Linked DNA regions of Homo sapiens: regions 2, 3 and 4 are each linked to region 1. The links come from fine-mapping of genetic effects on gene expression. A gene starts in region 1. Each other region holds a variant in brackets. All regions are shown on one strand. Distances are from middle to middle.

Region 1 (8,102 bases):
TCTTTTTTTTTTTTTTTTTTTTTGAGACAGAGTCTCACTCTGTCGCCCAGACTGCAGTACAGTGGTGCGATCTCAGCTCACTGCAACCTCTGCCTCCTGGGTTCAAGCGATTCTCATGCCTCAGCCTCCTGAGTAGCTGGGATTACAGGCATGTGCCACCATGCCTGGCTAATCTTTGTATTTTTAGTAGAGACGGGGTTTCACCATGTTGGCCAGGCTGGTCTGGAACTCCTGACCTCAGGTGATCCACCCACCTTGGCCTCCCAAAGTGCTGAGATTACAGACGTGAGCCACCGTGCCCAGACTTTGAAATTCTCATACTCTTTCTTTATCTGCTTATTTACTGCCAGTCTCACTCCACCAGAATGTCATCTCCTTGACGACAGAAACTTCAGCCATCCCAATCACCTCTATCCCCAGCACCAACGACACATAGTCGATGCTTGATAAATACCAAATGAATGAATGAATGACTGCCCCTTACTTAGTCCCAACAGGCACATCCTATCAGGAGGCAGCATTACAGTTAAGAACAAGGGGCCGGGCGCGGTGGCTCACGCCTGTAATCCCAGCACTTTGGGAGGCCGAGGCGGGCGGATCACGAGGTCAGGAGATCGAGACCATCCCGGCTAAAACGGTGAAACCCCGTCTCTACTAAAAATACAAAAAATTAGCCGGGCGTAGTGGCGGGCGCCTGTAGTCCCAGCTACTTGGGAGGCTGAGGCAGGAGAATGGCGTGAACCCGGGAGGCGGAGCTTGCAGTGAGCCGAGATCCCGCCACTGCACTCCAGCCTGGGCGACAGAGCGAGACTCCGTCTCAAAAAAAAAGAACAAGGTTCTCAGGGCTGCCTGGGTTCAAACCCCAGCTCCAGACTTTGACTTCCTATGCACCCATTTGAACAAGGTAACCTCTCTGTGCCTCAGCTGTCAGGAGGGTAGAGGAGAGGACTCAATGGGAGAATATGTGTGCAGTTCCTGGCATGTCACAGGCTTTCTCCATTAAGCTCTCTTGCCCCTGCAGTTCACTCCTGCCATCTCCTCTGTGAGTCCTCTGCGGACCACCCTAGGCAAGCAAAGGGATTAGGAGCTTGGCCACTAGACCCAAAGTGGCTGAGTTAGAATCCCAGCCCCGTTACCAGCTATGACACTAGGCAAGTCACTTTCTCTCTCTGGGCCTCTGTAAGATGACAATGATAGAATCTATTCAATTACTGTGTGGTCTGAGTTAATCCTTGGGAACCTGGATGAGAGCTTAGCACACAGTAGACCCTTTATAAGTTGTTACTTAGATAAATTTTACTTCTTACTGCTCGTGTTATTAATGATTATAGAACAAACCCTGGCCTCTTCTCTCCGTTACCCAGTTTTCTTTATCTTCAAGGACTTGAGAGTGTGTGTCGTGTTTGTCTCTCTCACTGCAATGTGGGCTCCACGAGGGAAGTGGTTTGATGATTTTGTTAACAGCTGTATTCCCAGGGCCCAGAACAGCACCTGGTATATGACAGGTACTCAAAAAATCTTCGTTATTAAATTAAAGAATGGAAGGATTAGCAGAAGGAAGAATAGTAGAATAGAATCGCTCCCTTTAGGCTGGGTATGGTGTCTCTCAGCACTTTGCGAGGCCAAGGCGGGCAGATCATTTGAGGTCAGGAGTTTGAGACCAGCCTGGCCAACATGGTGAAACCCCATCTCTACTAAAAATACAAAAATTAACTGGGCGTGGTGGCACGCACCTGGAGTCCCAGCTACTCGGGAGGCTGAGGCAAGAGAATTGCTTGAACCTGGGAGGTGGAGGTTGCAGTGAGCTGAGATCGCACCACTGCACTCCAGCCTGGAGTCCAGAGCAAGACTCCATCTTCAAAAAAAAAAAAAAAAAGAATTGCTCCCTTCAATGGTCCTTTCAGACACTGGCACTCAAGAGCTTTCAGATGGGGACTCCAGGTCCCGCACAAGGACGCCAGTCCCACCACCCGGGCAAGCCCAGCCTCATCCCCCTGCCCTGCCCAACATACTTCCGGTGATGGTAATCCTCCGGCCCTGGTAGTAATCTCCCAGGGTCACAGCGTTGCCCTGCTTGGTGGCCACGACCCTGACGGTGCGCACGCTGTCCTGGCACTCAACGTAGGGGTTGTAGCCTGGGTTCCCGGCTGCCAGCTGGGCATTGAGCTGGTTGTCGACGCTGGCCGGGGAGAAGGCATCGGCGATGCGGTCCCGGCAGAAAGACTTGTACTTCCAGATGACGATGGGTTGCGTGGGGGTCGAGGTCATCTGGTAGGTACAGGGCAGGGTCACAGGCTGGAAGAGGATCACCACGTGGTAGGGGTTGGACACGGTCACCTGGATGGCCCTGGCAGGAGCTGAGGGCAAGAGGAGAGACAGCAAGGGTTGCTGTGAGCTCAGGGAGGTGCTTCAACAGGAACGCCACCTGTCACCAGCTTGACACTCGCAAGTATGTGGTTTACAGAGTGCCTGGCACACATTGTTCCTTAATTGCCAGGACCAGTGAGGTAGCCACGATAATCATGCCCATTTTATAGACCCGTGGGGCTGAAGTGGCAGGTGCACGGTGACACGGCCAGTTTCCTTGGACTCGCCCGCCATCCCTCTTCCCAGCCTGTGGCCTCTGAACCACACCAGTCCCCTCTTCCCTTTGCCATTCACCCACAACAAGGGGCCTCTGTGTGGCCTGGGCAGGCAAGCCCAGATGGCCATGTTGATGCCCCCAGCGCCCAAGGCCCCACTTCAAAACCGACTACGAAGGATTCCAGGTTACCCGGGGCCTTTTGAATTTGGAGGGAAAACCATGGAGTTGTTTGCCTGAACTGCTTTGCCATGGAGGGACTAAAGCCCCCACAATATCTCCATCAGCCTCCCACCACCTCACCCTACTCTAAAGTCATTTCAAATGACTGAACCAAAAGTGTCTCGGGAAAGACCTCATCACCACCCAAATATCCCATCCAGGTGAAAGCCTGCCAGCAGAAGTCGGTTTCAAGTCCGTAAATCCATCCCACCAGACTCTTACGCACGTATAATCCGGAGCCCGCGGGAGGTGGGTGGGGTGCGGGGGATGGGGAGTCCCCAGTCCCACACCCACCCGAGGCCTAGGCATTGTTCCTTCGTCTCTGTCCCTCTAGGAAGCGTCTGATCCAGCCCTCCCGTGCCCTCTCCCCGTTACTCCAAAACTTAGAAATCCCCGGGTGCGCCCAAGTCCCATCCCGGCTTTTCTTTTCCCAGAGATCGGGCGGTCTTCCACTCCCTCCCCACAAAGAGTTCCATTCTCCCTGCCGCTCCGGGTCTCACCGTCCAGGGAGTTTCACTTCCTGCTATCTTCCAGATAAGGGCGCGGGGAGCGCTCCCCGGCACAAATGGGGAATTCCTCTCACTCCCGCGCGCAACAGATCGCCCAAGACCCAGGGGATCGGAAGGTCCCAGCCTCTGAGACCCCCGCTTCCCGCTTCCCGCCGCCTCCAACTCCATCCATCCCCCTCTACAGTTCCCTCCGGCGTTCCGCAGCGTCAGAGGCCCCGTGCCCCGTACCTGTGCACCAGGTGCTAAGCAGAAGCCACACGAAGACGACCGCGTCCCGGCCTGCGGCGGCCGGGTGGGAGCCCAGCCCTCTGGAGAGCCCGCCGGCCAACAGCGCCATCGCGGCCGTCTGGGCGCGTCTGGCCCGCGCGTCCCTTCCAAAGTACCTTAGGGGGCGCGGCGCGCACCAAGGCCAGGAGGGGTGCACGCTCCTCCCCTTCCCACTTCCGTTCCTTGTCCCTACTCCAAGTCCGTCCTGTTGCATTCTGGAAGTTTTAATGAGCGTAAACGACGTGGACAAAGGGCATGCTTTCAGATATGGGGGAGAAAGGTGCTTGACCCGCCGCGGTCCTCCGAGCCACACTCCACCCGCTGCGCGCTCCGGTGAATGGTTCGGCCCAGGTACACAAGGGTGGGAGCCGAGGGCTGGGCTTAGGGGTGAGCGGCGGGGAGGGGTTCCTCTGCCTCCCTCCCCGGAAGTGGGCTGACCCAGGTGCGCTCCGTCCCCCAGGGCCCGAACCAAGTGACTGGCCCGCTGGGAGGGCGCCTGCGGACCACAGGTCCCTTCCGGCCCCCATCTGCTCCGGCCAAACCAAGCGCACCGAGATCCATGCAACCGAGACCCACTTGGAGCGATTCACCTGTTGAGATAGGGCGGGTCCCGCCGCGCACCTGTTCCCTCCCTGCCCAAACCCCTCTCCCCGGCTGGCGATGGACCCGCCTAGGTGCGCCCTGCCGGGAGGAGCGAGTCTAAGCAAAGTCCTGGCTGGGAGAGGCTTGTTGGTGGCGCCTGACTTCTCCACTTCCACTGGGGTTCCTCCGGACCGGGTGGAGGGGGGGCGCTTCGGGCCTCCTGTGTCTCCCAGTTAGATGACCTGAGGAACCCTCTAAAGTCCCCGGAAGGGAAGCTCTGCCCCCTCAGGGATGCCCAAGGGGAATCAGGGCCAGGAAAAGTTGGAATTCCACTTCGGAAGTTTTCGCCACCTCCCCCACCCGTTCCCAACTTGTGGTTCGGCCCCTGGGCATCCCTAGCCCCCGGGTCAGCCCTCCGGAAATTCTGGCTCTTAAAGGGGCCGAGCGAAGGCGCGGGGCTTGGGACCGGTTTCCGCTTAGGAATTCCCGGAACGAGCCACCTGCGACCGAGGGCGGGGGCGCGGCGCGGCGATCAGCCTGCGCAGCGCTGGGCGTGACTCTGCTGTCTCCAGGTGGCGGCGAGGGAAAGCGCATCCTGGGGGAACCCTGGGCGCTTCCTCGCGTTAGACTCCCCCAGGTTGCCAACTGGCCAGTGGCTGGTTTCGGTACCCAGGCGTGCTTTGTTCTACTGGCCCTGTTAAAACTCAAGCCAGATCACGTCCACCTGCTCACAGCCCTCCTGTGGCTCCTCCTCACTCTCAGCAGAAACTGACCTTCCCCCTCTTATCTCACCTCCTCCCACTCTCTCTGGCTTACTCAGCTTCGGACACCCTGGCCTCCTCGCTGTTTCCAACTATACTTCTCACAGTCCTCAGAGCCATCGCCCGTGCTACTCCCTCTGCCAGAACACCCTTCCCGCAGATGTCCACATGATCTTCCTCCTCCTGTAGGACACCATTGCAGTGACACCTTCCCTGGCCACTTTTTATAAAATTTCAACCCGTTCACGTCCCTTCATCGTTTAAAAAAATATTTTTATGATAAAATATGCAAACTATAATATTTATCGCTTTAACCACTTCAAGTGTAAAATTCAGTGGCATTAAGTATATTCACAATGTCGTGTACCAATCACCACTCTTTATCCCCGAAACTGTTTCATCATCCCCAACATAAACTCTGTGACCATTAAACAGTAACTCCCCATTCCCTGCTACCTGTGCCCCTAGTAATTTCTATTCTACTTTGCTTACCAAATTGCCCATTCTAGGTGCCTCATATAAGTGGAATCGTCTAACATTTGTCCTGTGTCTAGTTTATTTCACAAAGAATAATGTTTTCAAGGTCCATCCATGTTGTAGTATGTCGAAGCCATGTAGCATGCAGTAAGATCAAAATTTCTTTTTACAGCGGACTAGTGTACCATTGTATGTATATGCTACGTTTTATTTATCCATTCATTTGTGGATGGACCTAGGTTGTTTCTACCTTTTGACTATTGTAAATAGTGCAGCTGTGAACACTGGTGTACAAATATCTGCTTTCATTTCTTTTGAATATATGCCTAAGAATGGAATTGCTGGGTGACTTGGTAGTTCTATTTTTAACCTTTTGAGGAACTGCCAAACTGTTTTCCCCAATGACTGCACTATTGTACATTCCCACCAGCAATGCACGGAGGATTCCAATTTCTCCACATCCCCACCAAAACTTATTATCCATTTTCTTGATTATGGCCATCCTGGTTAGTGTGAAGTGGCATCTCATTGTGGTTGTAATCTGCATTTCCCCAATGACTAACGATGTTGAGCATATTTCCACGAATTTATTGTCCATTAGTATATCTTCTTTGGAGAAGTGTCTATTCAAGTACTTTGCCCATTTTTGAATTGGGTTGTTTGTTTTTTTGTTGTCAAGTTGTAGGAGTTCTATATATATTTTGAATATTAATCCCTTGTTAGATATATGATCTGCAAATATTTTCTTCCATTCTCCAGGTTTTTTCACTTTCTTGATAGTGTCCTTTGGTGCACAAAAGTTCTTAATTTGATGAAGTTCAATTTACCTACTATTTTTTCTTCCTTGTACTTTTGGTATCCTATTTATGCAGTTGTTGCCAAGTCCAATGTGATGAAGATTTTCAACAATATTTTCTTCTAAGAGTTTTATAGTTTTAACTCTTAAATTGAGTCTTTGAGCCACTTTATTTTATTTCATTTTATTTTTTGAGACTGAGTCTCACTTTGTCGCCCAGGTTGGAGTGCAGTGGTGTGATCTCCGCTTACTGCAACCTCCACCTGCCGGGTTCAACCGATTCTCATGCCTCAGCCTCCCGAGTATTTGGGATTACAGGTGCATGCCACCACACTGGGTTAATTTTTGTATTTTTAGAAGAGATGGGGTTTCACCATGTTGGCCAGGCTGGTCTCGAACTCCTGACCTCAAGTAATCTACCTGCCTTGGCTTCCCAAAGTGCTCACATAGGTGTGAGCCACTGCACCCGGCCTGGGCCATTTTAATTTTAGTATGTGGTAGAAGGGTCCAACTTCATTTTTTTGCATATGGATATTCAGTTTTCCCTCTACCATTTGTTGAAAACACTGTCCTTTTCCCATTAAGTGGTCTTGGCTTCCTTGTCAAAAATCAATTAATCATATATGTGAGGGTTTGTTTCTCGGTTCTGTATTCTATTTCATTGATCTATACGCCTATCCTTATGCAAGTACCATATGTTTTAATTACTATAGCTCTGTAGTAAGTTCACAGATGGAAAGTGTGAGTCCTCTAACTTTATTCTTCTCTTTCAGTATTGTTTTGGTTATTGGGGGCCCCTTAAAACTCCATATGAATTTGAGGATCTGCTTCCATTTCTTTGGGAAAAGACGTTGGAATTTTGATCAGCATTGTGTTGAATCTGTAGATTGTTTTGGGTAGTATTGACATTTTTAATGTTAAGTCTTTCTATCCATGAACACATCTTGCCATTTATGCCATTTATTTAGATACTTGTTAATTTATTTTATCAATCTTTTTTTTTTTTTTTTTTTTTTTTTGAGACTGAGTCTTGCTCTGTCACCCAGGCTGGAGTGCAGTGGCCCAATCTCAGCTCACTGCAAGCTCCGCCTCCCAGGTTCACGCCATTCTCCTGCCTCAGCCTCCTGAGTAGCTGGGACTACAGGCGCCCACCACCACGCCCGGCTAATTTTTTGTAGTTTTAGTAGAGATGGGGTTTCATCGTGTTAGCCAGGATGGTCTCGATCTCCTGACCTCGTGATCCGCCCGCCTCGGCCTTCCAAAGTGCTGGGATTACAGGCTTGAGCCACCGTGCCAGGCCTTATTTTAGCAATCTTTTGTCATTTTCAGTGTACAAGTCTTTCACCTCATTGGTTAGATTTATTCCTAAGTATTTAATTGTTTTAGATGCTGTTGTAAATGAAATTGTTTTCTCAATTTCCTCTTCGGATTGTTCAGTGCTGGTGCATAGAAACATGACTGATTTTTGTGTGTTGATCTGGTACCCTGCAACTTGTTTATTAACTGTAGTAGCTGTCTTGTGAATTCTTTTGGATTTTCTATACATAGATCGTGTCATCTGTGAATAGAGATAGTTTTACTGCTTTCTTTCCAATCTGAATGACTTTTATTTCCTTTTTCTGTCTGATAGCTCTGGGTGGAACTTCCAATACAGTGTTCAATAGCCATGGTGAAAATGGCCATCTTTGTCTTACTCCTGATCTTAGGGGGAAAGCTTTCAATCTTTCACCATTGAGTATGATGATAGCTGTGAGTTTTTCATAAATACCCTTTATCACATTGAGGAATTTTCCCTGTATGATTAGTTTTCTGTTTTTTTTTTTTTAATCATGAAGGTGTGTTGAATTTTGTCAAATACCTTTTCTGTATTAATTCAGATGATCATGTGTGTGTTTTTTACCTTCATT
Region 2 (8,102 bases), 230 kb before region 1:
ATCCCTGCTTTAACTGGTGTAATTTGGCCTTCACTTGCTTTATAACCTACTGTTTCATTTAAGACTTTGCTTGAAAAAAAAAATGTTTCCATTCCTTAAAAAATGTTTGGAAACCACTGCTAAGTATCCGCTGGAGGCATTTAAGGTGGTACAACTTAGCGGTTAGAATATGAGTTATAAAATCAGTCAGACCTGATTTCAAATTCTGTTCCTACCACTTTACTAGCTACGTGACCTCTGGGTGGCTACTCTGTCAGGGCCAAAGTTTCATCATTTGTAAAGTGGGAATAATAGCAATACTTCACAAGGGTTTAGAAAACCTCAGTAAATGTTAGCCTAGATTTTTTCATGTTAATAAAAGGTAGCTGTTATTATTATGCTATAAAACTCCACTTAGATAATGACTCAGATAGAGTCATACTTAGAGAAATAATATTTGCAACTGTATTCACTTGCTCTCTTCTGACAGATGAGGAAACTGAGGCCCATAAAGATGAAGTGACTTTCCTAAGAGCACCCACAGAAGAAATAGCAGAGCCAGGCTTTCAACTCAGGTTCTATTAGATTTCAGAGCCCTAGAATTTTTAACTATTTTAGTTTCTTGTGTTGGCTGGGTGCAGTGGTTCACATCTATAATCCTAGTGCTTTGGGAGGCCAAGGCAGGTGGATCATTTGAGGCCAAGAGTTCAAGACCAGCCTCTGCAAGATAGTGAGACCCCTGTTTCTCCAAAAAATCATGAAAAAATTAGCCAGGCATGGTGGTGCATGCTTGTAGCCCCAGCTACTTGGGAGGCTGAGGTGAGAGGATCACTTAGCCCAAGGAGTTCAAGGCTACAGTGAGCTATGATGGCAACACTACACTCCAGTCTGAACCAGACCCTGGCTTAAAAAAAAAAAAAAAAAGCGGGGGGGAGGGGCAGGGGTGGGCATGGTGGCTCATGCCTGTAATCCCAGCACTTTGGGAGGCTGAGGCAGGTGGATCACGAGGTCAGGTGTCCAAGACCAGCCTGGCCAACATAGTGAAACCCTGTGTCTACTAAAAATACAAAAAATTAGCTGGGTGTAGTGGCAGGCACCTGTAATCGCAGCTACTCAGGAGGCTGAGGCAGGAGAATCGCTTGAACCCGGTGGAGGTTGCAGTGAGCTGAGAGCCAAGATCATGCTACTGAACTCCAGCCTGGGCGATAGAGCGAGACTCTGTCTCAAAAAAAAAAAACAATGGATGTGTAAAATAGGGTGGACCACATGGTGGAATGGTAGCTGTCCAGCAATAAAATAAGAGCGCAGTCCGGGTGTGGTGGCTCACATCTGAAATCCCAGCACTTTGGGAGGCTGAGGTGGGCAGACCAAGAGGTCAGGAGTTCAAGACCAGCCTGACCAACATGGTAAAACCCTATCTCTACTAAAAATACAAAAATTAGCCAGGCGTGGTGGCATGTGTCTGTAATCTCAGCTACTCAGGAGGCTAATGTAGGAGAATGGTGTGAACCCAGGAGGCGGAGGTTTCAGTGAGCCGAGATTACACCACTGCACTCCAGTCTGGGCAACAGAGCAAGGCTCCGTCTTAAATAATTAAAAAAAAAAAACAATTGAGGAATGTGTACACAGGAGTTTGTTAATATGGTTTCTCATATCTTTATGTGTGTTTGAAATACTTCATAGCATAACATTTTATTTTATTTATTTTTGACACTGAATCTCACACTGTCACTCAGGCCAGAGTGCAGTGACACAAACATAGCTCACTGTAGCTTCGACCTCCTGGGCTCAAGCAATCCTCCTGCCTCAGCCTTCTGTGTAGCTGGGACTTCAAGTGCATGCCAACACGCCTGACTAATTTTTAAAATTTTTTGTAGAGATGGGGTCTCACTATGTTGTCCAGGCTGGTCCTGAACTCCTGGGCTCAACTCATCCTCCTGCCTCAGCCTTCCAAAGTGTTGGGATTATAGTAGTGAGCCACCATGCCCAGCCTAACATAATATTTTAAGGCAACCACAATAAAGACACCTTAACTTCAATCTGTCCAAAGCCATTCAGCTGTGAGGGACAAGGTTGAGAATTCTGGTGGCTGACGGGGTGCTCTTCATGTTACCTCCTAAACATAGTCCCTCCTGAGAGCCTGATTTACTTCATTACAAACCCCAACAATGGCGGCACTGTGGAGGCGGCCCGAGAACTTCAACAGGGTGAAATGGCCTCAGATGCTCCTGAGAAATGAACACAGCACCCCGCCCTTGATGACTATCATCCCATTAAGACCTCCCACTACATTTTCTGACACCCAACAGACCAACTGACCACAACATTCCTGGGTTCTCCTCCCCTAAATCAATGACAACCCAAACAAACAAAAATCCCCATGGCTCTCCCATGGAAAGATGCCTCATTTCCCTCACCTGCACCTGAGTCTACTTCCCAGGCTGGTGACCTGAGGTAATGCTCCTTAGCGCCCCCTACAGCAAGTGACCGCTTTTGTATTTAGCCTCCTACTGAGCCTCTATCACCCCTCCCCGAAAGCCCTTTTTATGTTAAATCAGTTCATGCTCTCCCTCTATTCTCTACTCTCTACCCTCCCATGATTTCCCATTACTTCGTAATAAAACCCCATAGATTTTACTATGGGCTTCATCTCCTACCTCCCCCTCCCATCTTGATCACTTTGCTCCAGCCCTCTGCACCCCATTCCAGCCTCCTCAAGGGCTCTTCAAAAGGCCACGTTCCCTCTGCCTGCATGACTCATTCCCTTCTTCCCTTGCTCCCTCACTTCATCCAGGTCTCTGTGGCAATGACACCTCCTCCAAGAGGCCTTGCCAGTCTGATTATTCAACGTAATCTTGTTTTATTTGTTGTTCTAGCCAGAAACCCTCGCACATTATGAAAAACCTCACTCCCCATACAGAGCACCCCTCATCACTCATTCCCAATGTAGCATCAGGGATGGAGCCTGGATGTCCCTCCAGCACTGGTGATCTGATGAGAAAATCTCTCAGGACGTCCAGTTATCACAGATTCCTCTTGTGGCTTATTCTCAGGGTCATCCTGCTTACTAATTCCTAACAGAACATCTGGGGCCCCTCTCCAATAGGGGCAGAAACTAGGAAGACTTTCAATTTTCACTCCTTAAGTTATCTCGAGATGAGATTTTTCAGAGTCACAGAGGTAGGCTAACTGGATTGGGACCACGAAGTGTCATTCACTGTACAACTTAAAAACTGTGTCTCATTGGCCAGGTGCAGTGGCTCGCACCTGTAATGCCAGCACTTCGGGAGGCCGAGGTGGGTGGATCACCTGAGGTCAGGAGTTCGACACCAGCCTGGCCAACATGAGGAAACCCTGTCTCTACTAAAAACACAAAAATTAGCTCGGCATGGTGGCACGTGCCTGGAGCTACTCAGGAGGCTGAGA[T/C]AGGAGAATCGCTTGAATCCAAGAGGCGGAGGTTGCAGTGAGCCGAGATCGTGCCACTACACTCCAGTGTGGGCGACAGAGCAAGACGCCATCTCAAAAAAAAAAAAATTATCTCTCATTAACAGGTCACCTCGTTATTTCTTATAAATCCGATCATCTGCACAACTGTATTGACCTGAGTATATTTTTGTATCATTCATTCAATGTAAATATTTAGAACACAGCACAATTTTTGGAAAAAATTTTGCTGTTGCATCTGTTCATTTCTCAGCATTTCATTCTCAGTATTCAGTTTCTCAATGAAACCTCCCAAAACCTTACTGGACTTCAGAGAAGCCTTGTCCGGCTGCCTTCCCAAGAAGACCCTGCCTAGGAATAAAATTTCCTCTCCTTGAGGCCCAAATTCACAGTTCTTACTATTTGTGGATAAGTCAATTTTCAGTTCCAACTTGATTTCCAGTTCAATGCTGACTCCTCTGGTCCTCTTGGCTCCATGGTGTGGGCAGGATCCAGAGCTTCAAAATTTACATCCATCACTCTTCTCAGCAGGAACACCTCAGCCCCAACTTCTGCTTCCCTTCTGTCCTCATGCACTTCCAGTCGGGGCTAATGTGCGCATGCGTCCTGGTTCTGGACGCTCTTTTTTTTTTTTGAGATGGAATTTCACTCTTGTTGCCCAGGCTGGAGTGCAATGGTGCAATCTCAACTCCCGGGTTCAAGCGATTCTCCTGCCTCAGCCTCCTGAGTAGCTGGGATTACAGGCATGCACCACCATGCCCGGCTAATTTTGTATTTTTAGTAGAGACAGGGTTTTTCCATGTTGGTCAGGCTGGTCTCGAACTCCTGACCTCAAGTGATCCACTCACCTCGGCCTCCCAAAGTGTTGGGATTACAGGCATGAGCCACCGCTCCTGGCCCGGACGCTCTCTTTTTACCGTCCACTTCTTCTAACACGCTCCCTGAGGTGCCTCAGCCCCTGGGAGGCATTCCTGGCCTTTTGTCACACCTGTTTTGTTTGAGCCACTGCACCGATAGGCACCTTGAGGCCTCGCGGGAGGACGGCCCTCCCTTCCCTGTGTGCAGGCCCTGAAGGGAGCACCACATGGAGACAGGTACAGAAAAGGCGGGAAAGCAGAGATGCAGTGTCTGGGGCTTTGAGGCTGGGTCTTGAAGGGCAAGCCCGTGAGTCCCCGAATAGCGACGAAGCCGCTGAGCTTCTCAGAACCCAGAAAAGGTATAGAGGAGGAGCTCACATGCACACATACACACCCCAATCCATCCATCTGTCATCTATTCATATCTTTATTAACCAATTACATGTTGGGATGATAATCCTCTGAACATGTTGGTTTAAATAAAATATATTAATTTCGTCTGTTTCTTTTTACTTCTTTTAATTTGATTATTAGACAATTAAAAATTTTTAAATGGTGCCTGGAGCTACTCGGGAGGCTGAGGCAGGAGAATCGCTTGAATCCAAGAGGCTTGGATTTTTTAAAAAATAGCTTACATTACATTTCTTTCTTTTAATTTTTTAAAGTTATTTTATTTTTTTTTATTTTTTTGAGACAGAGTTTCGCTCTTGACACCCAGGCTGGAGTGCAATGGTACCATCTCTGCTCACTGTAACCTCCACCTCCTGGGTTCAAGTGATTCTCCTGTCTCAGCCTCCTGAGTAGCTGAGATTACGAGCGCCAGCCACCACGCCCAGCTAATGTTTGTATTTTTAGTAAAGATGGGGTTTCACCATGTTGGTCAGGCTGGTCTCAAACTCCTGACTTCAGGTGATCCACCTGCTTTGGCCTCCCAGATTGCTGGGATTACAGGCGTGAGCCACCACCCCCGGCCCCTTTTAATTTTTGTAGAGACAGAGTCTTGCTATGTTGTCCAGGCTGATCTCGAACTGGTGACCTCAAGGGTCATTCTTGCCTCAACCTCCCAAATTGCTGGGATTACAGGCATGAGCCACTGTGCCTGGCCTTGGCTTATATTGTATATCTATTGGACAATGTTGGGGTTGATAAAAAGGATTCATTGCAAAGCTCCTAACCCAGTGACTGGCTCATAATAGATATCTGATGGATTCTCTAAACATATTTTTACAGATTGCTTCCCTGTGAAAAGGTTTCTGCCCCATGGAGCTCAGCCTTAACTTGGGAGACACACAACAGTTGAGTGAACAAGCAAAGGTACTTTCAGATTATGATAAATAAGTGCCATAAAGGAAATAAAACAGCAGGAATTGGCAGCATTTAATTCAGGTGGCCGAGAGGGCCCCTCTGAGCTGGTGGTCTTTGAACTGAGCCCTGAATGACTGACAAAAGGAGCAGGCTCTGGATGGCTTGGGCAGGGCTCAAGGTTGTGGGAACAACCCCTGCAAAAGCTCTAAGGCAGCAATGAGACTTCTATGATTGAGGTAGGGAGAAGAGGTCTTGTGCTTGGGAAAAGGGTAGTTGGAAATGTACCTGCAGAGGTCAAGGTGTGGTGGGTGGCAGGTCACAGGGGCCTTGTAGGCCATGGTCACTGGTATTTGAAATGTGACAGGAAACTTTTGCAGCTGTCTCCACCCAGTTCCCGGTAGACTTAAGCCCTAAGACTCTAAGGCATCCATTGCATGTAATGAATTAAGTTATCTCCTACTGTAGTAAGTAATGGTATTAGCTAGTAGCATCCTTGGGAAAATCAAGAAAACAATCACTCAAACCATTCTCTGCAGAGCTTAATTGTCTCCCAAAACCCTAAGAAAGGTTGCAGGAGAGATATTTAGCAAAAGAGTTGAAAAAGATCACTCTGACTGCAATGTAGAGAGTGGATGGGGTGGGGGCAAGAGGCAGGAATGGAGGGAGGGCGTTCAGTAGGAAGTCTTTCAAACTGGCCTGGAAGAGAGACGGCGGTGGCTTCCATGGGGCCTGCAGTAGTCAGATAGTGAGAAGTGAACATGTATTTTGAAAACTGAAGCCAACTAGAACCAATGGATTAGATATGGAGGAAGAAGAAGGAGGAGTCAAGGATGGCTACTGAGATTTTGGCCTGAGCCACTGGATGGATGCCGGTGGTTTGGGTTCTAGTCTCAATTCTGCTGGATGACCCTGGGCAAACAAGTGACTTCTCTCTGCTGACGCTCAGTTTCCTCTTCTGTAAAACGGGGATTGCCATGGAGATGTGATGAGATTATACATGAAATGCACAGGGCTGCCACATAGCAAGCACGTAAACTGCTGTTATTATCATTGTCATCATTCCTGCGCCGCTAACATACTGATGTAGCTACACGCATGGGCTCAGGAACCAGTCAGGCCTAAGTTGAGTTCCTAAGTTGTTATGTGACCTTAGGGAGGTCACTTCACATTCCTGAGCCTCAGGGTCCTCCTCTGTGAAGGGAGTTAATGAAAATACCCTCCCTCCAGACCCAGTTGTGAGGATTCAGTGACGTCCTGGACGTGAAGTGCTTAGCCCTCAGTGTAGCTCACAGTAGTTGGTCAGTTAACAGGACCTAAACGCTAGAGTAATTTGAGTTTTCTTCTCTGTGTATGTTTGGTGAACAGTGTTGATGAAAAGAGTCAAACTGTAAAATATTTTGAAGAGATTTATTATGAGTGACCATGGCCCCGTGACACAGCCCCCAGGAGGTCCTGAGAACATTTGCCCAAGGTGGTCAGGGTGCAGCTTGGTTTTATAATTTTAGGTAGGCATGAAACATCAATCAAATACATTTTTTTTTTCTTTTGAGACGGAGTCTCGCTCTGTCCCCCGGGCTGGAGTGCAGTGGCGCGATCTCGGCTCACTGCAAGCCTCGCCTCCTAGGTTCACGCCATTCTCCTGCCCCAGCGTCCCGAATAGTTGGGACTACAGGCGCCCGCCACCACACCTGGCTAATTTTTTTTTTTTGTATTTTTAGTAGAGACGGGGTTTTGCCATGTTAGCCAGGATGATCTCAATCTCCTGACCTCGTGATCTGCCCGCCTTGGCCTCGCAAAGTGCTGGGATTACAGGCGTGAGCCACAATGCCTGGCCTCAAATACATTTAAGAAATTAATTGGTTTGGTCCAGAAAGATGGGACAATTCAAAGTGGGGCAGGGCTTCCAGGCTATAGGTAAATTTAAACATTTGCTGGTTGACAATTGATTGAGTTTGTCTAAAGACCTGGGATTGACAGAAAGGATATGTTCAGGTTAAAAGATTGTGGAGACCAAGGTTCTTTTGAAGTCTTACAGTGGCTGCCCTTAGAGACAATAGATGACAAATGTTTCCTATTCAGATCTTTAAAAGGTGCTAGACTCTTAGTTAATCTCTTCAGGATTGGGAGGGCCTGGAAGAAAAAGATCTAGCTATGTTGATAGAGATTCTTTACAGATGCAAATTTTCCCCACAAAGGACAGCTTTGCAGGGCCACTTCAAAATATGATTTTGGAGTAAAATATTTTGACTTTCTTCTTTATCAAGTAACGTTATGCCACAGTAAGACTGGAAAGTAAGTCACGATATATAGGGTTAAATAAAACCCAACTGATGAGAATTTATGGTTTTTAGGGCACGATTCTCTGGGCCCCTTAGATAGGAATTTGGGCAGGATAAAAAATCAGAGCTTAGTCCTCAGCAGAATCAACTTAAAACCAGGCTTTATGTGTTTATTATGAAATAATATATGCTCATGGGAAAAATGTAAACAGTACAGAATTATGTAAAGCAGAAAATG
Region 3 (8,102 bases), 21 kb after region 1:
TGGTTCTGCTAAGGAAAAGGTCTCCTCACTGGCTTGCTGAGATGCGCATGCAGGAAGAATTCCCTGGTGTTTCCTCTGAGTGTGCCCTGGGCAGGTGATGTTAGGGACACAGCAATGACCTAGTTCTTGTCTGCACAGGCTTCTGATATTCAGGGGGAGGCCAAATGTAGAATCTAGAGACCGAGCTACTCAGGCCCATGGGCTCATGACAATGTAGACACTGATGTTTCTGTCTCCTGATTGGACCCTGGATACAATTTATCTATCCATCCTTGTCCCAATGCCACAGTGTCTTTGGTTTTCTTTTTTTTTTTTCCTTTTATTTGTTTATTTATTTTTGAGATGGAGTCTCCCTCTGTTGCCCAGGCTGAAGTGCAATGGCGCAATCTCAGCTTACTGCAACCTCCATCTCCCAAATTCAAGCGATTCTCCTGCCTCAGCCTCCCAAGTAGCTGGGATTGCAGGCATCCGCAACCATGCCCGGCTAATTCTTATATTTTTAGTAGAGAAGGGGTTGGCCAGGCTGGTTTTGAACCCCTGACCTCAAGTGATTCTGCCCTCCTTGGCCTCCCAAGTGCTGAGATTACAGGCACAAGCCACTGCACCCAGCCCACAGTGTCTTTTTATACCTTTCAATAAGTCACAATATGTGGTAGTGTTTCCCAACTTTGTTCTTCAAGATTGTCTTGGTTATTCTTGGCCCATTATATACAAATTTTGGAATCGGTTTGTAGTTTCCACCCCAAAACTCTTATTTTTTTTTAATTGGGACTTTATTGAATCTAAAGATAAATTTGGGGTAAATCAATATATATTCAATATTTAGTCTTCCAATCCGTGAATGTGGCAAATACTTCCATTGTTTAGTCTTTCTTTAATTTCTCCCAATAATGTGAAGTTATTAATGTAGAGGACTCACATATCTTTTATTATATTTATTCCTAGGTATTTAATTTTTTCATACTATCCTATAGTAATCTTTTAAGTTTCATCTTTTAATTCTTTGTTGCTGGTATATAAATCATATTTAATATATGACCTTATATCTAATTTTTTGCTTGTATCTTACCTCCAGTAAAATGCTGAATGGAAAAGTTGATGGCAGAAATACTTGTGTTATTCTTAGTATTTTACTATGAAGTATAATTTAGCCCTAGGTGTTTTTGTTTGTTTGTTTGTTTTTTGTTTTTTTTTTGAGACAGGGTCTCACTCTGTTGCCCAGGCTGGAGTGCAATGGCGCAATCTCAGTTCACTGCAACCTTCGCCTCCTGGGTTCAAATGATTCTCCTGCCTCAGCCTCCCAAGTAGCTGGGACTACAGGCACCCACCATCACACCCGGCTAATTTTTGTATTTTTAGTAGAGATAGGGTTTCGCCATGTTACCCTAACTGGTCTCGAACTCCTGACTTCAGGTGATCCACCCGCCTCGGCCTTCCAAAGTGCTGGGATTACAGGTGTGAGCCACTGTACCCGGCCTGTCCTAGGTTTTTAATAGAAACACTTTATCTTCTTAGAAAATTTCCTTTTGTTCCTAGTTTGCCAAAAGTTTTGAGCCATAAATGAATGTTGAGTTTTATCAGATGCATTCTCTGTATCTACTGAGATAATAATATGGTTTTTCTCCTTTATTCTGTTAATGTGGTGAATTACATTAATTGATGTGCAAATATAACCCAAATTTGCCGTCCTGAAATAACCCAATTTGGTCTTTATATTTATCCTTGTGTAAAGAAAATCACTGGAATCAATTTGCAATATTTTCTTTGGGATAGTGTGTCTGTGTTGACAAAAGAGATTGACCTGAGGTTTTTCTTTGTTGTAATGTCCTTATAAGGTTTTGAGATAAGGTGATGCAAGTCTCATAGAAATCTTCCATCTTTTTCTATGTTGGGAAAAGTCTGGAAGATCATTTAATTTATTTATTTATTTATTTATTTATTTGAGGCAGTGTCTCTGTCACCCAGGCTGGAGTGCAGTGGCGCAATCTGCACTCACTGCAACCTCTGCCTCCTGGGTTCAAGCTATTCTTCTGCCTCGGCCACCTGAGTAGCTGGGATTACAGATGCCCGACACCATGCCTGGCTAATTTTTTGTATTTTTAGTAGAGATGGGGCTTCACCGTGTTGGCCAGGCTGGCCTCGAATTCCTGACCTCAAGTGATTCTCCCATCTTGGCCACCCAAAGTGCTGGCAAGTGCTGGCATTACAGGTGTGAGCCACCGCCTGAGAAGGTGTTTAGAAAAGGGGATGGAAGGAAAGGGAGCAACTGAGAAAAATATTTGTTGAAGATGTATTGAGTCATGCAGATGGCTGAGGGAAGAGACGGGGACCAGCATGTGCAATGGTTCTGGGGCAAGAGCCCCTCTGCCTGCCTGACAGATTCAGGGAACAGCGGGAGGCCAGCGTGGTTGGAGGGTAGGGAGTAGGGGGAAAGGTGCAGGAGGTCAGAACAGTAACCAGAGATAAATTTTTTTAAATTTTTATTATTTTTTTTGAGATGGAGTTTCACGCTTGTCACCCAGGCTGGAGTGCAGCGGTGCGATCTCGGCTCACTGCAACCTCCGTCTCCCAGGTTCAAGTGATTCTCCTGCCTCAGCCTCCTGAGTAGCTGGGATTACAGATGCCCGCCACCACACCCAGCTATTTAGTAGAGACGGGGTTTCACCACGTTGGCCAGGCTGGTCTTGAACTCCTGACCTCAGGTGATCCGCCCGCCTCAGCCTCCCAAAAGTGCTGGGATTACAGGCATGAGCCACCGAGCCCAGCCCGAGAGGATTTGTTTACTGCTTTATCCCCAGTGCTAAGAAGTGTGCCCAGAACATAGTAAGAGTTCAGGAAATATGTGTTGAGTGTTCACATGTGACACCTTCATGCTCTTATTTCATCCCTGGGAATGTAGTCTCACCCCTGGGAAAGGAAGCGGGGCAGGTAGTAGAGAAAACTCTGAATAGACAAATTAAGTTTGCTCCTTTCCCAGCAAAATGGAGGGCTTGGAATAGAAATTAAATATGGTCAGCGGGGCACAGTGGCTCACGCCTGTAATCCCAACACTTTGGGAGGCCAAGGTGGGAGGATGGCTTGAAGCCAGGAGTTCGAGACCAGCTTGGGCAACATAACAAGACCCCGTCTCTACAGAAAAAATTTTAAACTAGCTGGGCATGGTTAGCATGCACCTGAAGTCCCAGCTACTCAACAGGCTGAGGTGAGAGGATTACTTGATTCCAGGAGTTTGAGGCTGTAGTGAGCTGTGATTGCAGCACTGCCTTCCAGCCTGGGTAAAAGAGCGAGTCCTTGTCTGAAAAAAAAAAAAAAAAGAAAAACAGTGTTGTCAGCTTGTCACAAAACAAAAGGGGATGGTGACCTCACACACACATGTGGTAGCTGCAATTCATCCCACTGCCCAGGGCTGAGGCCAGAGTTCATGGGTGACCTCACAATGTTCGGGGTGGCACCAGCCCACTGCCACAGCCCCAGTCCACCATGCCACCCATGCTGTGGCTGCTGCTCCACTTTGCTGCCCCGGCACTGGGGTTCTACTTTTCCATCAGCTGCCCCAGTGGTAAGCAGTGCCAACAGGCCCTACTCTCAGGCAATGATATTCTCCTGTATTGCAACTCCTCGGGGGCGCACTGGTACTATTTATTCACACAAGGCAAGAAGGGCAGGCTCACCAGCCTCACCAATATTTCCAATATGGAAATAATGCCCGAGGGCAGCCTTCTCATTAAAGATCCATTGCCCTCCCAGACGGGCCTCTACCACTGCTGGAACAAGAATGGCCGCCAAGTGGTGCAGTATGAAATTGACTTTCAGGATGTCACCACCCTGCATATAACACACAAGGACCTGGGTCAGAGGCCCCTGCAGAACGAGACCCTGCATTTGGGCAGCAAACAGCTCATTTTTACCTGGTGGGAGCCCTGGCAGGACTGCAACCGCTGTGAGGAGCCGGGCGAGTGTAAACGCCTGGGGTACCGCTACATTGAGGAGCCTCTGGAGGAAGCCATGCCCTGCTGGCTCTATCTGGGAGAGGTGCTGGTGTG[G/A]TCTAGCCGCTTGCGGCCTGAGCTGCAGGTGGAAGCCTGCCACGTCCAGTGCACCAATAACACACAGTTAAGGGTGGATTACGTCATTTTTGACAACTTCAGGCTCGATGAGAAGACAGAATTTGTGTGGCTCGACTGTCCCTTAGGATCCATGTACAGGTGATGGAATCCCTGCCTCTGGCCCCTACCCAGATTCTTCCGGTCAGGGGATCCTTCCTGGTAATATGTGCAGAGGGATGAGTGGGCGTTCTTTGCAGTTCAGCCACGTAGTGGTCATCAGGACAGTGCCAGGCCCTGCTCTTAAACAGTCCGAGGGGGACACAGCCCAGGGTGGTGCGAGCCGGGATGGGAGAAGCCCAGGCAGACAGATGGGGCTGTGATGGGGGAAGCCCAGGAAGCTTAGGGGCTCCAACAGGCCCCTGCTTCATCTGGAAAGGTCAGTGAGACCTTGGAGGAGAGGCTGGTGCCCCCGGGGCTTCCCATCAAGGCCTGCCTCCCAGAACTCACACTCATCTTCTTACTTCCTGCCAGGAGCCTCTGGAAAATAGCCCCTTCCCCTCCTCTCCCCCAGTCCACCTGCCCCTTAATAAGAAATGCAGGCTGGGCGCGGTGGCTCATGCCTGTAATCCCAGCACTTTGGGAGGCCGAGGTGGGTGGATCACCTGAGGTCAGGAGTTCGAGACCAGCCTGGCCAACATGGTGAAACCCCGTCTCTACTAGAAATACAAAAATTAGCCAGGTATGGTGGCACGTGCCTGTAATCCCAGCTACTCAGGAGGCTGACGCAGGAGAATCACTTGAACCCGGGAGGCGGAGGTTGCAGTGAGCCGAGATCACACCACTGCACTCCAGCCTGGGCAACATCACGAGACAACTCTGACTCAAAAAACAAAAAAACAAAAAAACCCCAGAAATCCATTGTCTCACCCTTCTGGAGGCCGTAAGTCTGAAATCAAGGTGTCAGTAGAACCACGCTCCCTCTCAGTCCCTCTGAGTGAGCTGGGCAGAATCCTCCTTTTTTCTAGCTTCTGGATGCAGTCAGAGATCCCGGTCTTCTCTGGCTTGTGGCTGCTTCTCTCCAATGCCCGCCTCCATCATCACTTGGCATTCTTCCTGGGTGTCTGTGTCCCTGTCTCTCTTTTCCTTTTCTTAAAAGGACACCGGTCAGATGGGATTGAGGGCCCACCTTATTCCAATATGCTCTCATCTCAACTGATTATATCTGCAATGATCCAATTTCCAAATAATGTTACATTCTGAGGTTCTGGGAAGGACATGCATTTTGCGGGGGCCACTGTCTAACTCAGTGCAGAGGTCTTGCCAGCCCCTGGCCACACAGGGTCATTGTGATGTGTTAAGGGGACTAAAGACTGTAGAGTGCCTGCCATAGCATCCAATAAGAAGTTCCACAATGTACCTAGCTGGGAATGCAAGCTTTTATGATATTGTCTGTGGAATATCCTCTCTGTTCTTCCACCACGCTGGGTGTGTCGGTGCCTGATTCATTTCTCCACTAAACACGTGTTCACTGCATATTTATATGCCAAGCTCCATTCTAGGGACCTGGGAAACAGTGAAGAACACAACCAACGGAGATTCTTGCCCTTGTGGCGCATAAATATATAGTTTTATTATTATTATTGTTATTATTATTAGAGACAGGGTCTTGCTCTTTCACCCTGGCTGGAGTACAGTGGCACAATCACAGCTCACTGCAGCCTCAATTCCCCGGGCTCAGGTGATTCTCCCATCTCAGCCTCCACAGTAGCTGGGACTACAGACATGCACTACCACACCCGGCTAAGTTTTTAAGTTTTGTAGAGATGAGGTCTCACTTTGTTGCCCAGGCTGAGCCCAAACTCCTGGGCTCAAGTGATCCTCCCACATCGGCCTCCCAAAGTGCTGGGATTACAAACCTGAGCCACTGTGCCCGACCTATAGTATTTTGGATGGTGACGGAGCAGGAAGGGATGCTGGGAATAGGGGAGGTTAAAAGTGTCAAGTGGTGGGGTCAGGGAAGGCTCCTCTGAGAAGCTGCCATTTCAGCCCAGACTGAAAGGAGGCGAGGAAGCCCTGGGGACAGAGGGAACAGCCAGGGCCAAGACTGCACCCAGCATGTCAGAGGAACATCTAGGAGAGCAGCGTGGCTAGGCAGAGTGAGTAAAGGGGAGAGTGAAGGAGATGAGACCAGACAGGCAAAGGCAGGTGGACAAATCATTTAAGGAGTGCCCTTGCTAACTCCTCCAAATAACCTTATGAGGTACAATCATTACTCTCCATTTTTTTTGGTTTGTTGTTTTCTTTTTTGGGACAGGGTCTTGCTCTGTCACCCAGGCTGGAGTGCAGTGCTGTGACTGGCTCACTGCAGCCTCAACCTCCTGGGCTCAAGTAATCCTCCCACCTCAGCCTCCTGAGCAGCCAGGACCACAGGCGCATGTCAGCATGTCCAGCTAATTTTTTAAATTTTTGCAGACATGGGTTCTTGCTTTGTTGTCCAGGCTGGTTCTGAACTCCTGGGCTCAAGCCATCCTCCTTGCCTTTGCCTCTGAAAGTGTTGGGATTACAGGTGTGAGCCACCAAGCCTGGTCTAGACTCTTAGTTTTACATAAAGAAATGGAAGTTCAAAGAGCTGGAGGCATTTGCCCAGGTCACCCAGCCAGTAAGGGGTGGGGCCAGTAAGGGGTGGAGCCAGGAAGAGGGGAGCCAGTAAGGGGTGGGGCCAGTAACGGGTGGAGCCCTGGGAGCCCCCAGCTGTGCCTCCTCCACCCCACTGTTGACGGCTGCACAGTGCTCCGTGGGGGGTGGCGAGGAGGGGGACTGGGCGGTGCTTTATTTTCTGTTCCTCAGGGAGACGTCGGTCCCTCCTTTCTCCCTGGCCCTGCACCTGACCTTGTCCTCCTCGCAGGCCCGTCAACTGGCGTGCCAACGACACCCCCCTGACGTGGGAGAGCCAGCTCTCCGGCCAGGACTTCACCACCTTTCTGGACCCCTCCACCGGCGGCAGGCAGCTGCAGGTTTTCCAGCCGGCCGTCTACAAGTGCTTCGTGCAGCAGGAGCTCGTGGCCCAGTTCAAACCCGCCGCCAGTCTGGAGACGCTGGAGGCTCAGTGGAGAGAGAACGATGCCCAGTGGCGGGAGGCAAGGAAGGCCCTGCGGGGCAGGGCGGACTCCGTGCTCAAGGGGCTGAAGCTGGTGCTGCTCGTGGTCACCGTCCTGGCCCTGCTGGGGGCGCTGCTCAAGTGCATCCACCCTTCCCCGGGCAGGAGAAGCACACAGGTGCTGGTGGTGAAATAAAGCGAGCCCCCGGTGCACAAGCGGACCCGGCCTCCGGTTCTCTCTTAGCCACAGCCGCCCCTTCTGTCACTTCCGCCCCGGTGCCCCGTAGCCCAGGGTGACCGAGCTCTTCCCTGGGTCAGGTGCTGCTCTGTTAACTCATTAGTAATTTCCATAGAACAGATGAGGAAACTGAGGCTGGTGATTCTAGTTCAAACCAGGTTGCCTGTCCCAAGCCCTGTGTTCTTCAGAAGGAGGGAGAGATGGAACCAGGCCATTCTTGGGGTGTCTCCCTAAAGGTGGTAACTCATAGCCTCCTCACTCATCCCATTCCCCCAACTACAAGATGGGGGATATGAGCAGGACACCTCTAGGCTCCCCAGATCTGCCCTGGGCCCTGCTGTCTTTTCCTGCCCATCCCTTGCCCACCCTCCCCACTGTGCCCAGGCCTTCAGGCCCAGCCACCACTCCCCAAGTCAGAGGCACTGCCAGACACGCGCCACTTTTCCAGGCTCTTGTGGTGGAGTGAGGCCCCTCAGGCCCTTGGAAGGGGAGACAGGCCCTTTTGCTGGTACAAGGTGCCAGGCCTGGCTCAGCTGACCTGCAGGAATCACCAGGCCTGACTGTTCCCAGAAATCACACACTGTTCAGCAGAGTGCAAGAGTGAAAAATAATTCATGCCATTAAAATTCATTGCCCTAATAGTGCAGTGAAGCCATGACTGGACAGAGATGAAACTCTCCCAGAACAGAACCTCTGCCCCCAGGATAGGGCAGGGCTCATCCTT
Region 4 (8,102 bases), 25 kb before region 1:
GGCCACAGCCTGCCCGTTACCCTCACACCCCGAGATCGGCAGCTCCCCAGACCTGCCGTTCCCTTGAAAAGGCTGGGGCCCACCCACCAGCAAACCCCTCTGGCTTCTCTGGGCTGTGGCCGCATGCTGCTGACTGGCCTCTCCCTGCCTCCAGTGCCTCCCACTCAGGCCTGAGTGACAAACCCTCCGATGGATGCGGACTCTCCTTCTCCCACCGTGACCTCTCTTCCCTGGCCCCTTCCATCCTTGTGCTCCCTCTTTCCTCCAAAACCAATAGCCCAAGATCAGTGCTTGCTATGGAGCACGGTCCAGGCCCTGCACTGGGCTCAGCGAGTGCTTGCTCCCCTATTACTATCGCGGTGCGCTGAACCTTCCCACCAAAGACAACCACACCCGCCTTTGGGAACTCTGGCCAAAAGCAGCAGCGGAGCTGAGAGTCCAGGCCTGGAGGCACCGCTGGCGCAGTCCCCAGCAGAGCGCTCCTCGCCCAGGGGTCTGTGGAGGAACTCGGCAGGCGGCCTCGTTTCAGCCTCTGCCCTCCCACAGTCCTCTCGAGAGCTGGGCGCCGGCTGCAGGTACATCCTCTCCAGAGCAAGCTTACTTCTTACACACCTACTCCCCGCCCTACTATGTGCCAGGCCCTCCGCCAGGCTGGGGTCCAGGGTGGAAGCAGCCCCGGTGCGCCCCATGGGCACTCGCAGCACCACTGTGGGCAAGTGGCACTAACCCCATTGCATTCGTGTCATCACTGAAGATGGTACAAAGTGCCTCGGGAACGCCAGGCGCCGAGCCATGGCCTCTGCATGGGAATGGGGGTGGGATGAATCCTCAGAGATCCAGGAAACATTCGGGCTGGTTTCTGAGAGAAAGACTCTAAGGCAGGCAGCTGGGAAGATCCCAGAAATGGTGGCCTGAAAACCATTTCAGGGTATGCAGGGGTGGGAAAAGGTTGTAAAGATCGGTTGTCAAGGCCTTGTGTGCTCTGCTCGCAGGTCAGGACCGCATCTCCTCCTCCTCCAGAGTCCCAGGCCCTTGAATCCAGGCCCTGACATTAGCAGGCGGTAATGCTGTCCAGCCTGTGGCTTCGGAAGACCATCATGGCACATTTGAAATACAGGAAGACCCATTAGGACCAAGGCCACGTTCATTCCACAGAAGCACTTCAGTTACTCCATAGGAAACTTAAAATTCAGAAGCTGGGTGGGGTGGCTCACGCCTGTAATCCCAGCACTTTGGGAGGGTGGATCACATGAGGCCAGGAGTTTGAGACCAGCCTGGCCAACATGGCGAAACCCCGGCTCTACTAAAAATGCAAAAATTAGCCAGGCATAGCAGTGCATGCCTATAATCCCAGCGACTTGGGAGGCTGAAGCACGAGAATTGCTTGAACCCAAGAGGTGGAGGTTGTAGTGAGCCGAGACCACATCATTGCACACCAGCTTGGGTGACAGAGCGAGACTCTGTCTCAAAAAAAAAAAAAAAAAAAAGAGAAAATTCAGAAGCGAAACCTGCCAGGACTGAAGGAAGAAATGGACAAATCCACAAATATAGTGAGAGACATGGACATCTTTCTCATTGATTGGTGGAACAAGTAAACAACAACAACAAAAATCAGAATAGAAAGCCTGAACACTCAACCAGCCTGACCTCACTGACCTGGGGGGACATTCTGCCTGACAGCAGCAGACACCTGTCCTCGTCAATGCCCCAGAAGCTTCCGCCAAGCTAGGACACATTCGGGCCCGTCGGGTAAGTCTCATCGAATTTCAAGGAACTGAAATCATACAGAGTATGTTCTCTGACCATAACAGAACTAAATTAAAAATCAATAACAAAAAGATATCTGAAAAACCCACAAATATTTGGAAATTAAGCAACCTGCCTCCAAATAACAGAAAGGTCAAAGAAGAAATCACAAGGAAAATTGGAAAACACTTTAAACTGAATGATAACAAAAACAACATATCCCAGTGGGATGTAGCTAAAGTGATGCTGGAGTGAACTGGCAACTCTAAATGTTGTTAAGCAAAGAGAAAGGTTAAGAATCATCTCAATCCCTGCTGTGAAACATTAATCCTGTAAAATAAAGATTTTAGTAGAAAATTGGAAAAAAAAAAAAAAAAAGAATTACCTTAAAAAGCTGGGGTTGGGGTGTGCCAGGGAAGCTAAAGCATGAAACCTAGCAAATTGAATCCAAAGTGAGTAGAAGGGGCCGGGTGCAGTGGCTCACTCCTGTAATCCCAGCACTTTGGGAGGCTGAGGCAGGTGGATAACCTGAGGCCAGGAGTTCGAGACCAGCCTGGCCAACATGGTGAAACCCCGTCTCTACCAAAAATACAAAAACTAGCTAGGTGTGGCAGCGGGCACCTGTAGTCCCAGCTACTTGGGAGACTGAGGCAGGAGAATCACTTGAACCGGGGAGGCAGAGGTTGTAGTAAGCTGAGATTGCGCCACTGTGACAGAGCGAGATTCCATCTCAAAACAAAACAACAAACAAACAAAAAACCAAGTGAGTAGAAGCATGAATTAGTAACATTAAGAGTAGAAATCAATGAAACGGAAAAAGCAATCTAATCTGGCACCTAAAAATCAGATTTCACATAAGTCTCGATTTCTAGCTTCTCAGAGTTTCTGGCAACAGTGGCCCTAGATTCTGACAGGGCAGCAAGGGGAAGGCACTGGGCAAGGGCCACCCTTCAGGCAGCGCACACATGCCCCAGATCACTGGGGGCCCCCCACAACCTTTCCTATCTTTTTCTGACACAAGGTCTGGGTCTGTTGCTCAGGCTGGAGGGTAATCTCAGCTCACTGCAACCTCTGTCTCCCGGACTCAAGCCATCTTCCCACCACAGGTTCCCAAGTAGCTGGGACTGTTACAGGCATGTACCACCAGGCCTGGCTAATTTTTAATTTTTTTGGTAGAGACAGGGTTTTGTCACATTGCCTAGGATGGTCTCAAACTCCTGGGCTCAAGTGATCCGTCCGTCTTGGCCAAAATGTAATCCCAAAAGTGCTGGGATTCCGGGCGGGAGCCACCACACCCAGCCACACACCCCTTCCTGAGATGCCAAGTGCACCTCCCTCCCTCAGGCCCCTGCAGGCATTTGAGTCTGTGACTCTGGGATAAGCTCCTGCAGTACCAAGAAGTGGTGGGAAGGAGGGAAAAAGAAGTGAGAGAAGCGGATCTGAAATCACCACAGAAGAGAAACTTGGGGTTTGTGGCCATAAGGGAAGAAGAGGGCAGAGTTGAAAGCGGCTCTGGTCTTAGTTTCTGGCTTGGGCAGCTGTGACAGGGGTAGCTTTTGCTGCTCTGCAAAGAAGAAGGTTGCATGAAAGCCTTTGGAGACGGGAGATGGCACATTCTCTTTTGGGCGAGTTGAGTTTGAGGCATTACAGGGATGTCCAGAGACAGAAATCT[C/T]GAATAGGTAGTTCAAAACGTGGGGCTGGAGTTGCAGTGAAAGGAAGGGAATGGATGGAAACACAGTTCCTTGCATTACCAGGAGCCAGGTGGTGGGCGAAGCCTGGGAGGACATCAAGGAACAGTCCTCAACTTTTTGTGAGTCACACACTCTTCTGCAGCAAAGAAAAAAGAGGAACACCTACAAGGGGGAACAGAGTTTGGGGGATACTGACCAAGAGCTTCCGAGCCCATCGCTGGGCCTCACAAGTCATACACCTGAGGCCGACGGGAGGGGCCGGACCTTATGAAACACCAGCAAGACTGGGTGTGGCAGCTCAGGCCTGTAGCCGAGGCCGGAGGACTGCCTGAGGCCAGAAGTTCAAGACGAGCCTGGGCAGCATAGCAAGACCTCCACTCTACAGATAAAAAAAAATTACCCCATGTGATGACGCCTGCCTGTGGTCCCAGCCACTCAGAAGCCTGAGGTGTGAGGATCGCTTGAGCCTGGGAGGTCAAGGCTGCAGTGAGCTGTGATTGTGCCACTGTACTCCAGCCTGGGTGACAGAGTGAGACCCCCTTCTCAAAAAAAAAGAAACACTCGCAGCCAAAGCAGTTTCTCAAGCTTGTCCACTATGACAAATCACCTGAAGAGCTGATGGAAAACACAGATTCCCCGGCACCCCCATCTACTCACTTGGAACTGGGACAGCCCTGGAAATTTCACTGTTAACAGTGGGGTAGGAAAGGCAAAGATCACAGGAGAATCAGAGAGGATGGAGGAGAAAGGAAGATTCCAGAAAGGAACAGAGGGAAACAGGCAGCATCAGATGCTTGGAGCCCAGACAGCAAAGGAGGCCAGTGGATGTGGCAATGGGGTCACCACGGGTGACCGGAAGTGGAGCTGTTTTGGTAGAGCCATGAGCCAGATGGCTGAGGGTACTGGGAGGATGAGCAGATTGGGGCAGATGCTCTGCAAGTCAGGAAAGCGGAGACAGGACGGAGCTGGAGAAGTGGGCAGGTGATGAAGACTGCTTCACAGGGTGAGAAAGTTTCAAGGCTGCCTGGAGTCAGATTAACTAAGGGAGAGGCGGGGGTGAGAGTGGGGTGGGAGGGTTCTGAGTCCTCTCTTCGCCTTACTGTGTGGCCACCAAGACTCACTGCATCCCCACCAGGTGCCCGGGGCGGCTGTGCTTCCACCATTTCACAGAGGGAAGACAGGTACGGAGATTAAGAACCACCCTGACGCCCCACCACAGGTAAGTCGTGGGGCTGGGGCTGCTCTGGGGGCCCCTCAAACTCACTGCATCTCAAAACCAAGCTCAGATGCACCCCTTCCCTTCCAAGCATGGAGGGGAGTTCAGCACGAAACCCTTATTCTCCAGCCTTGGAGTCCTCCCCACATTTCCCCCAACCCCTGCCCTGTCTCAGGCCTGACAGTCGTATGGTCTCCTACCTCCCAGCCCCTTCCCACCACTCTTGCCAACAGCCTCCACAACCCAAACCCCTCTGCTGGCTTCTCATCACCCTGGAATAAAACCACAGGAGCCCAGACAGCCACACTGGGGACTTCTTCCAAGGTCCTCCACCATCTGGCCTGGGCAGCCCCCTCCACTGCGCCAACTTCCTCTTTCCTTTCCTGAATTCTGCTCTTCTGCAGACACACCATGGCGGCCCTGGCTCAGGGCCTGGCCTGTGTTCTAGCTCTTCCCTCTGCCCGGGACTCTCCTGAGGTTCTCAACAGGCCCCTTCCCTCAGGTCGCTTCAGGGATCTGCTTCAATGTCACCTCTCGAAGAGCCCTTCAGAGCACACTACCATGCCGCCATCACCCGCCACCTTCTTCCCCAGCTTTCCTCTCCTGCCTGTGACTGCCTGCACTGCCTGATGCGGCTGTGTGACTCCCATCTCTCCCACCAGAACGCGCACAGAGAGCTGAGACCTTGTCTGTCCTATCATCTGCTGCATTGCCATATCTGAGGACGCAAAAGGGGGGCTGGTCGTAGTATGCACGCGCTGAATGAACGCCTGAACTCAGGGAGGAGCTGCTCAGAACACAACTACCTGGGCCACAGACCCCAGTCCCATCACCACCTTTAGGACTCAGCATTCAGCCCCTCACTCGGGCATTCGAGGCCTTCCCGATCTTCCCTCCTGAGGCATTCTAAATGGAACTTCTCCCACAACCAAACCAGCACCCCACAAAGTAACCTGACCCACACTCCCCTCTCCCTAGGGAAGCGTCACCCCAGCCCACCCCCCATCAATGTCCCATGAGACCCATGAGACATAAGCCCTCAGGCCTTTGAGCCTCCCTGACGCTCCAGGCCAGACTCCAGACCTGGCACAGGGCCTGTGCCGCTCAGCCCAGAACCCACGGGCAGTAAATATTTGTTGAATGATGGTTGTTTGGGTGTAAGCACTCTCCTGGCACTTGCACAGTGCTGTGCCCACTGCAGTGGCTACTGACAGGCGGGGCGGGACAGTGCTGAAGGCCAAATGACCTGAGGTGAGACCTGGTGTTTCTGGAAAGGGCAGGATGCTCCGGCCTTAGGTAGCCAGAGGCAGAACTTCATGCAGTTTCTCCCTCAGATGTGCTCCCTGGGGGAACAGACCTACTTCTGGAGGCCAGGCAGGCATGGGAGTGCGGGATGTGAGCATGACAGCTGCCACGTGGAAAGGTCAGCCCACGTGAGCCCGGTCAGCCCCATTTTTCAAGTGGGGCAGGCAATCCGTATGGGAGTGTGAAGTCCACCATCTTAGATGTGGGCCATGAATTCAAGATCACCAGCCGGGTCAACAAATGGCCAGTTCCAATTCACACTCCCTGTCCCTCTACTTCTGACACTGTACTCTCCCCTCGTTGCTCACTTTCTACCTTTACAGCGTCCAGCAAAGCCCTCTGGAGCACTTGTGGCCTGCCCAGGAGTGGCTTCTCTCTCTGTCACTCCACACTCCAGGGCTGGCTGAGCCTGTGAGGGTGGTGGTCAGGGGGACCCGGAGCCACACCTTGTCCTCACCTTCGTTGTGCTGGGCTCTTCTCCTCTCATCTCGGGGTGTTCTGGTTCCATCAATTTTTCTACAAGAGGAGGAAAAAAAAAGGGGGCATGTATTATCGCAGAGCTGTTTGCCCAAGCATCTGCTAAGTATTAGATTTGAAAATTATCTTTGCAAGGTAAATCCATCTGCAAAAACAAAAGACATGATACTTTATGTGCACTAGAGCAGCAGAAACAGGCAAAGAAAAAAAACATTACACCATGTGCCCACTTCATGCTAACTGCCCAGCTTCTACTCCAGAAACCCCTCTTCCTTCCATTTCAACACCAGGCCCTCCAGGTGTCCCCTGCACATACGGAGAGTAAGGGTGTGTCCGGGGGGCGATCGTCCTCTGTGTTCCTGTCTGAAGCACATCCTGGGGCGTCATCATGACGTAGAACTGGCCTGCAGGGAGAGTGGGGGGTTAGTGGCAAGGCAGGGTGAAGTCAGAACTGGCTGGGGGGGCTTCCCTCCCTGCTGGGCCCGTTGCCTCCCCCACCTGCCAATCTGACTTCTACTCCTCACCTCCAGCCTGCAAGCTCTGGTCTGTGGTCTGTACGGACACAGCCGTAGTATCTCCCACACTGGACGCTGGGAAATAGGCAAATCGTGCCTCCCCGCTGACAGCCTCGGCCGCCGGACTGCCACCATTGCTGAAGGGATTTTGGATCACAGCCTGGGGAGTAGGAGGGCAGAGGCTACCCTTAGCTTTCTCTGTTCCTCCATCCCGTCCCCTCATTGCTGTGCTTGGGGTTTACTGCATTCTCTGCAATTAACAGGAGTGGGGACTCCTTCTGCGTGTAGCATTCTGTCCTGTGTTTCAAACAGCCCTGGAACATGGCGGGAGGTCAGCGATCACTTGCTGAGCAAATCCGTTTCGCACTCTAAGAAACTTTCCTCTTAAGACACATCATTCCCATTTTGCGGGAAAAAAAAATTCCAAGAGCACTGTCCCCAGGTTTCACGGTGCACAACAGGGATCTGGCCCCATGCAGCCTGAGGCCTGAAGGCAGCATCCGCTGGGCGACACCTGCCCCACCCCCGGGGCTCCCCAAGAGCAGAGCCAGTGTCCCCTCTCCACTCCCTCCCCCCCCCACCCAGGGGTGGCAGGGCACCTACCAGCGGGAAGGGCGCTGCAGGACCTGGGGGCACAGAGGCAGCGGCGGGGCCCGGGCGCTGGGCTGCCCCGTCCACACCCACCTGGGTCACAGCCTGCTGCCCCCCCGCGAAGGCAGCGGTGGACACGACGCTGACGGCGCCAGCTGTGTCGCCCTGGCCGTCCAGCTGACCATCAGTCACCTGGACTACGCGGTATGTCACCTGCAGGGGGCGGCAGAGCGGCGAGGCCGGCGCTGGGGCCAGGTCCGAGCCTTCCCGGCGCGCCCGCCCGCCCGCCCGTTCGCCCTCGCGGCCCGCCGCTCACCTGTCCTCCATTTGTCTCTGTGCGGAACTGGTACTGGATGTTGTGGTCGCCGAACGCCGCCTGCTGGACGCTGGTGATGGCCACCGCTGTCTGCTCCTCCGCTCCTGGGCCGTCCCCGCCTGGGGCCGAGGAGGGTCGGGGCACGGTCAGGGCCGCGCCGAGCGCCCCCAGCCCTCCCCGGGCGCGGCCGGCCCGGCAAGCACTCACCTTCCTGCAGCTCGACGCCCTCCTCCGCCTCGGGTCCC

The links. PIP is the estimated chance that this variant, and not a neighbour inherited with it, causes the effect.
Region 2: its variant is fine-mapped to the expression of LSR in CD4 T cells (BLUEPRINT, PIP 0.95).
Region 3: its variant is fine-mapped to the expression of LSR in subcutaneous fat (GTEx, PIP above 0.99). The same link has a PIP of 0.9 or more in lung and sigmoid colon.
Region 4: its variant is fine-mapped to the expression of LSR in left ventricle (GTEx, PIP 0.94).

The regions. Positions count from the first base shown.
Region 1 is chr19:35,244,570-35,252,671 of GRCh38, reverse strand. It overlaps LSR (lipolysis stimulated lipoprotein receptor), which reads right to left and starts at 3,670. Exons shown (of 10, transcript NM_205834.4): 1 at 3,541-3,670; 2 at 2,013-2,357. The coding sequence starts at 3,649. RefSeq lists silencers at 3,507-3,576, 3,987-4,066 and enhancers at 3,179-3,980, 3,981-4,783, 4,917-5,086.
Region 2 is chr19:35,470,715-35,478,816 of GRCh38, reverse strand. No RefSeq gene overlaps it. Among named protein-coding and RNA genes, the nearest start is that of KRTDAP, 16 kb to the left of the region's middle. RefSeq lists an enhancer at 7,395-7,968. The variant T/C (reference allele first, on the strand shown) is at 3,406.
Region 3 is chr19:35,224,059-35,232,160 of GRCh38, reverse strand. FAM187B (family with sequence similarity 187 member B) reads left to right here and starts at 3,422. Exons shown (of 2, transcript NM_152481.2): 1 at 3,422-4,202; 2 at 6,949-7,361. The coding sequence starts at 3,481. The coding sequence ends at 7,336. The variant G/A (reference allele first, on the strand shown) is at 4,044.
Region 4 is chr19:35,269,455-35,277,556 of GRCh38, reverse strand. It overlaps USF2 (upstream transcription factor 2, c-fos interacting), which reads right to left. Exons shown (of 10, transcript NM_003367.4): 2 at 8,065-8,102; 3 at 7,858-7,976; 4 at 7,554-7,754; 5 at 6,960-7,110; 6 at 6,752-6,839; 7 at 6,416-6,474. Among named protein-coding and RNA genes, the nearest start is that of USF2, 4.5 kb to the right of the region's middle. RefSeq lists an enhancer at 6,500-7,239 and silencers at 7,527-7,846, 7,987-8,102. The variant C/T (reference allele first, on the strand shown) is at 3,419.